Linked DNA regions of Homo sapiens: region 2 is reported to be linked to region 1. The links are microRNA targets in miRTarBase. Many come from high-throughput screens and were not tested one by one. Region 1 holds a microRNA gene; the other region holds the end of a gene's coding sequence.

The links. Region 1 holds the annotated microRNA hsa-miR-4758-5p (GUGAGUGGGAGCCGGUGGGGCUG, at 1,087-1,109, shown strand). A microRNA usually pairs through its seed, bases 2 to 8, with sites in the 3' UTR of a target mRNA and lowers its output. Matches are read on the target gene's strand: a 7mer-m8 pairs with bases 2 to 8, a 7mer-A1 pairs with bases 2 to 7 and ends in A, and an 8mer does both.
Region 2: miRTarBase lists TSPAN14 as a target of hsa-miR-4758-5p. The part of its 3' UTR that is shown has no 7-base or 8-base seed match.

The regions. Positions count from the first base shown.
Region 1 is chr20:62,330,643-62,333,642 of GRCh38, reverse strand. It overlaps MIR4758 (microRNA 4758), which reads left to right and starts at 1,086; the gene lies at 1,086-1,156. LAMA5 (laminin subunit alpha 5) reads left to right here. Exons shown (of 80, transcript NM_005560.6): 24 at 1-79; 25 at 162-268; 26 at 400-553; 27 at 926-1,086; 28 at 1,163-1,271; 29 at 2,514-2,611; 30 at 2,699-2,900.
Region 2 is chr10:80,517,519-80,521,030 of GRCh38, reverse strand. TSPAN14 (tetraspanin 14) reads right to left here. Exons shown (of 9, transcript NM_030927.4): 9 at 1-3,126. The coding sequence ends at 3,055. Among named protein-coding and RNA genes, the nearest start is that of TSPAN14-AS1, 17 kb to the left of the region's middle.

The DNA of each region.
Region 1 (3,000 bases):
CCAGAGGGGCTTCGGAGAGCCCTTTGTGCTGAACCCTGGCACCTGGGCCCTGCGTGTGGAGGCCGAAGGGGTGCTCCTGGTGAGGCAGGGGCCAGAGTGAGGGCTGGGGGCCGGGTCAGGGGGTGGGGCCCACCACTCTCAGCACCACCTCCACCCTGCAGGACTACGTGGTTCTGCTGCCTAGCGCATACTACGAGGCGGCGCTCCTGCAGCTGCGGGTGACTGAGGCCTGCACATACCGTCCCTCTGCCCAGCAGTCTGGCGACAAGTGAGGGCCATGCGTGCGGTGGGACCGGGGTGGGGGCTTCCTGGACCCCCACTGTGCCTGGCTTCCCCCACTCAGGCTGTCTCTGGGGACCTGGGTGGACCTGGGGCTGACCACGGCCTGTGTCCCCCCAGCTGCCTCCTCTACACACACCTCCCCCTGGATGGCTTCCCCTCGGCCGCCGGGCTGGAGGCCCTGTGTCGCCAGGACAACAGCCTGCCCCGGCCCTGCCCCACGGAGCAGCTCAGCCCGTCGCACCCGCCACTGATCACCTGCACGGGCAGTGATGTGCGTGTCCTGGGACCCCACGGAGCAATGGGTGTTGCAGGACCTTGGCCTGGGGGCTGGGGGTCCTGTGGCGGTGGCAGGTTATAGGAGCAGGGCGCTGCCTCAGGCAATGGAGCCCAGCACCCAGGCAGGGCGCCCCTGCCTCCTGCCTCCTGCCTCCTGCATGTGTGACCTCAGTGCCTGTCTGTATGTAGGATTGGCTGTGGCCTCCACATACAGCTCAGCCCCCACCACTTGCCTGGAGATGTCCGGGCCAGGGTGGGACTCGGCTGAAGGGCAGGCCCTGGGGTCAGGGAGGCGCTGGAGTGGGAGGGGAGGGAGGTGGGAAGGGCGAGGGGTGGCGGGCCTCCCGTCACCCTGCCTTCCCTGCAGGTGGACGTCCAGCTTCAAGTGGCAGTGCCACAGCCAGGCCGCTATGCCCTAGTGGTGGAGTACGCCAATGAGGATGCCCGCCAGGAGGTGGGCGTGGCCGTGCACACCCCACAGCGGGCCCCCCAGCAGGGGCTGCTCTCCCTGCACCCCTGCCTGTACAGGTGAGTGGGAGCCGGTGGGGCTGGAGTAAGGGCACGCCCGGGGCTGCCCCACCTGCTGACCACCCTCCCCCCACAGCACCCTGTGCCGGGGCACTGCCCGGGATACCCAGGACCACCTGGCTGTCTTCCACCTGGACTCGGAGGCCAGCGTGAGGCTCACAGCCGAACAGGCACGCTTCTTCCTGGTAAGGACCCCTCAGGTCCCCACCCCAAGGGGTCAGCTTCTTTCAGAAGATTTGAAACATGCATGAGAGGGGAGAGGACAGTTGGGGTCCCAGGTCCCCAAGGCGGCCACACTCGCTCATGCCCAGCCCAGCATGTTTCTTCTGGAACCCCTCCTGCAAGCGTTTTGTGGATTCAGTCCCTTTTGACGTACCCCCGAGCTGTTCCATGTGCTCAGGAAAGCACCTGCAGTCACAGCTCCCTGGCCCCAGGGCAGCCACCTCCTGGCACAGACAGCGTTGGTTGCCTGTTCTGGAACTTTCTTTTCTTTTTTTTTTTTTTTGAAATGGAGTCTCACTCTGTCGCCCAGGCTGGAGCGCAATGGCAAGATCTTGGCTCACTGCAACCTCCACCTCCTGGGTTCAAGCGATTCTCGTGCCTCAGTCTCCCAAGTACCTGAGACTATAGGCACTCACCACCACGCCTGGCTAATTTTCGTATTTTTAGGAGAGACAGGGTTTCACCATATTGGCCAGGCTATTCTCAAACTCCTGACCTCAGGTGATCCGCCCTCTTGGGCCTCCCAAAATGCTGGGATTACAGACAGGAGCCACCATACCTGGCCTGGCACTTTCTATAAATGCCACACAACATGTTCTGTGCAGCCGCGTCTCCCACCGTTGTGTCAGCGGATAAGTTGCCGTGTTCCGAGACACCAACCTCACATGGCCGCACGGAAAGGGAGCACCCATTTGCGGCTTGTGCCTGCTGAGTGCCTGCCTGGGTCAGGTCCTGGGAGAGCTGGGCCTGGCCCGGCCTGGTGGCACCAAGCAGCACTCGAGATAAGAGTGGGGGAACAGTGACGGATGGGAGGGCGAGGGGGAGGAAGAGGGCTATGGGAGGAGCCGCATAGGCCTGTGGGCCCAGGAACTGGCCAACACGCTGGTCTGCGGTTGGGGTTTGTGCAGCTGGAGGAGGAGCAAGGGCATCTTGGAAAGAGCAGGGCTCGGTCGGACGCCTGGGTTTGCAGTTTCCTGGGTCTGAGCTGTGTGACCGGCCCCCCCATCGTACCGCCTGCACCCCCCATCGTACCGCCTACACCCCCCCATCGTACCGCCTGCACCCCCCCCATCGTACCGCCTGCACTCCCCATCGTACCGCCTGCACCCCCCCATCGTACCGCCTGCACCCCCCCATCGTACCGCCTGCACCCCCTATCCTCCCCGCACCACGGGCGTTGCAGCATCTCGTCCCTCTGCCTGCAGCACGGGGTCACTCTGGTGCCCATTGAGGAGTTCAGCCCGGAGTTCGTGGAGCCCCGGGTCAGCTGCATCAGCAGCCACGGCGCCTTTGGCCCCAACAGGTAATGGCAGGTAATGGGGCTGGGAGGGGCGCGGCCGAGGGCCCGGCGGCAGGGCCGGCTCTGACTCACCCACTGTGCTCTCACCAGTGCCGCCTGTCTGCCCTCGCGCTTCCCAAAGCCGCCCCAGCCCATCATCCTCAGGGACTGCCAGGTGATCCCGCTGCCGCCCGGCCTCCCGCTGACCCACGCGCAGGATCTCACTCCAGCCATGTCCCCAGCTGGACCCCGACCTCGGCCCCCCACCGCTGTGGACCCTGATGCAGAGCCCACCCTGCTGCGTGAGCCCCAGGTGAGGGCCATAGTCTCTAGAGGGACGGGGGTGTCAGGGCAGGACTCCGGGTCCCAACCCAGGGCAGGTTGTCCAGGGGGCAGCAGGGGCTCATAGCTCA
Region 2 (3,512 bases), not on the chromosome of region 1:
AGTGCCAGGCTTCTTGTGGACCATGCAGATGGTTTTTCAGCCCAGCCCACAGCCCTGCCCTGTGGGTAGTGGGATTCCCCGGAGGCTGGTGAGGACAGCTGCAGCAGAGTCCTAAGCAGACATATGGGAGAGGTCAGAGAACTGGCGAGCCTGGGCCTCTGAAGCAGAGAAGCAGAGGACATTCAGGAGGTGCAGTGTCTGGTGCTACAGAGGCTGAAGAAGGCCAGAGTTGACAATTGGGATAAGCAGCTTTCAGCTACGTGGGGCATGGTGGGTGGTGCAAAGGAAGGGGTACAGACAGCCCAGATAAGAAGCTGCCTGGGAAAGAAAGGGAGGGAGCCATAGGGCCTCGGCAAGTTTTTAGGATGGGAAAGGAAGGCCAGCGATAGGAAGACGGGACAGGAAAAATAACGTTGACAAGATCCTGAGAGGGGGTGGACCAGGGTTGAGGAGGGGGTACAGGAAAGACCCCAAGGCTTTAAAGTTAGCATGTGCATGGTGAGGTGAGAAGAGGGTGCAAATGCCACAGCTGGCCTCCAACCAGGGAAGGCGGGGATTCAGGACAGGCCAGTGCTAGGTGGGGAGTGCACAGGAGGCCTGCCCTGTGCCTCTGTGCGGACAGCCGATGCTGGGCGGAGACTGCCACGTGACCGGCTCTCATCCTTGCTTTCTTTCCATTCCTCATCCAACTATTCAGAGTCACATGATATGGCTGAGAACAGCCAGAAGGGTCTATAGTTGAAAGATAAACCCAACTCTGCAAAAATCGCACCGAGACTTCATCCTAAACCAGGTCTACAGGAATAGATGGGTCAGGCCTGCAGGAGCCTTCCAGGAGCTCTGGCAGGGAGGGTCTGTGGCCACCCACTCCCCCAGGGGAGGCTGGGTCAGAGGCATCTAGTGAGGTGGGCACTGCCACCAACCCCCTTCACAGAAAGGCCGGCACACCCAGGACACACAGCTCATGCAGCAGCAGTGCCCAGGCTTCAATCCCATGTCCCCACTTCGACTCAGTGTCCCCAAGCTCTTCTGCTTGGATCAATAAATAGTATCGCACAGGGGTGGACAGAAATAACCTAAAACAATGTTTCCTCTAGACCTATGGAGTTGAAGTTTCTCCAGCTCTCACTTATAGCGGGGGATAAACCACAAGCCAACTTGTGCGGCTGTGGCCGGCACACAAGGGCAACTGAAAGTGCTGCCATACAGAATCTTAAAAAAAAAAAAAATTACTCAATGAAATGTAAGTCAGATTGTGCTGATGATGGACTGCCTTTACCATCCATCCTTCTGTAAGGTCTACATACCCTATCCCTTGGTTCCTCTGGCAGCCGCGTTTACCACTGAGATGCTTAGCAATATCTCAATAGTGACCCCAAACAAAAATGACCAAAACAGCATTAATATAAAGATATATTCCATAAAAGAGTTTGGCAGTCAAAGAGAAGCATCACACTTCCGAAAAACACAAGCATTCTTCTCCTAGTCTACAGAGAATTGTGTAAAAAAAAAAAAATCATCATCAACAGCCACCAGTATACACCACACTAGAATGTACACTCCGGCAAGTAAATTAAGGTTGCAGTCCATCCCTGAACGATGAGAAGTGGTCTGAGCTATGGCAAAGTGTTAGAAAGTAGCCCAGCTAGACAAATGCCCCAGCTATCCCCAGGGGAGTTATTCAGTACTTAAGACTTCATTTCCAAGAGCAGCCCCAGAAAAGCCCTGACAGGAAGGGTGGACCAGTGATCACCGATATCCCATTAGGGGCGGTCACCAGAAACAAAATGCCTGGAGCTTCTGAGCAGCTGCAGCCTGGGGTTGTGGCTAGGCACGGGGTGTGGTTGCAGAAGAACGGCTGTCTCCGGGGAGAGGCAAATGGCAGGCCAGCCAGCCCTGGGTACATGGCCACAAGAGGAGCCCTGGCCAACAGTTTCAGGCTGGCCATCTTGGGCTGGGGCTCCCTGGGCTTGCAGTGGGGAGGGTCAGGATTCAAATTCTGGGTGACAATTTCAGTAGCACCAAGACCAGAAGACAGTGAGGCCACGCTGGGGAGTGGGGGAGTGCTTGTATGTGGGATGCATGGAGGGAGGCTGCAGTATGTGGAGGAGAAAGAGAGGCTGTTGTGGGCTGGTTCTTAAGACACTCAAGGGGACTCAAAGGGTCGGCTCCAGCCATGGACACTATCTAAGGCTGCTCAGAGGAGAATGCTGGAGGAGAGGAAGAGGAAGTGAAATGGTGTGAGAACATTCTTACCCCTATAAATAAACTATTTACACACTTTAAGAAAAGGAGAGCCGGCTCTCAGTGAAGAACCATGCCCACCGCGCCACCGGCGCCATCAGGGCTTAATGCTATCAAGACCAGAGGCAGTTCCGGCGCCAGGAGAATAGCTGGTGGACACAGGGGGACAGTGGACAAGGCACTCCCGTGGCACCAGTCCACGCACTGGCTCAGGCTTACTTCACTTGAACATGGCTGAGGATCCTGCAAACAACCCCTGATATGTGCATGTCCCAGCAGACTGCGCTGGCACTCAGAGGCCCAGCGGGGCCACGTCCGCCTCCCGTTACGGGCAGGCCCCCATGCTGCTTTGCTTGATGGAGAGAGATGCCCTGTCCACGCCTGTGGGTCCCTCTACCCACGGCCCACCCACAGATGTGGATGACCCAAAGCAGATGTCTGGATGCCAGTGGAGAGGGGACCAGGGTGTCCTGCAGACATGCTTGAGCTGCAGGGGGTCTGAGTCAAGCCCTCCTGGCAGCCACAGGAGCCCTCTCTGTCTTTCAGAGTCACCACTCCCACATAAAGACACATTCTCTGTCTCTGGGTAGACTCCAGAGGGATGCAGTCACAAGTTTGGGCAGGTAACAAGGGGGACCCTTGGTCTTCAGCACCAGCAAGCAGAAACAGAGAGGTCACGTCACGCTGATGCTTAAGATGGGGCACTGGCTCTGGGGGTGTCGGCTCCTCTCCCTCTGGACGTAGGGCTGATGGCAGAGAAAGGCTCTGGCCTCCCAGCGTGGCTCAGCTCGGCTCCCTCAACTCTGCTCCTCAGAAGTGATGGCCGGCCTTCACTGCCTCGATGTCTGAGATCAGCGTCCTTGCCAGGAAGATGCCAAATATCTGAAACCAACACCAGCAGAGTCAGCGGCCATTGCTGGGGCCCAAAGGCAGAGGGCAGGGAGCGGAGGGTGGGGTTGGGAGCTCCCACTGCACGCCTCTCCTCACCCCCCAGCTGCGACTGAAGACGTAGAGACAGCACCGCAGAGCGAGTGGCACAGCACAGCCACCCCTCCCGCAAAAAAGGGGTCCTGGGGTCTAGTCTGTTACATTCCCAAAGCCTAGAAGAGGCAAACCACAGGCACCACAAGCAAAACAGACACTCTGTCCTGCCTCCAACATGATTAAGTATGTCACAAGCCATGGGGCAGGACACGCCTGTCCCTGGGTTAAACCAAAAATAACAGGGTCACGCTGACTGGTTCTCATTCCCAAAATAATAAATCTTG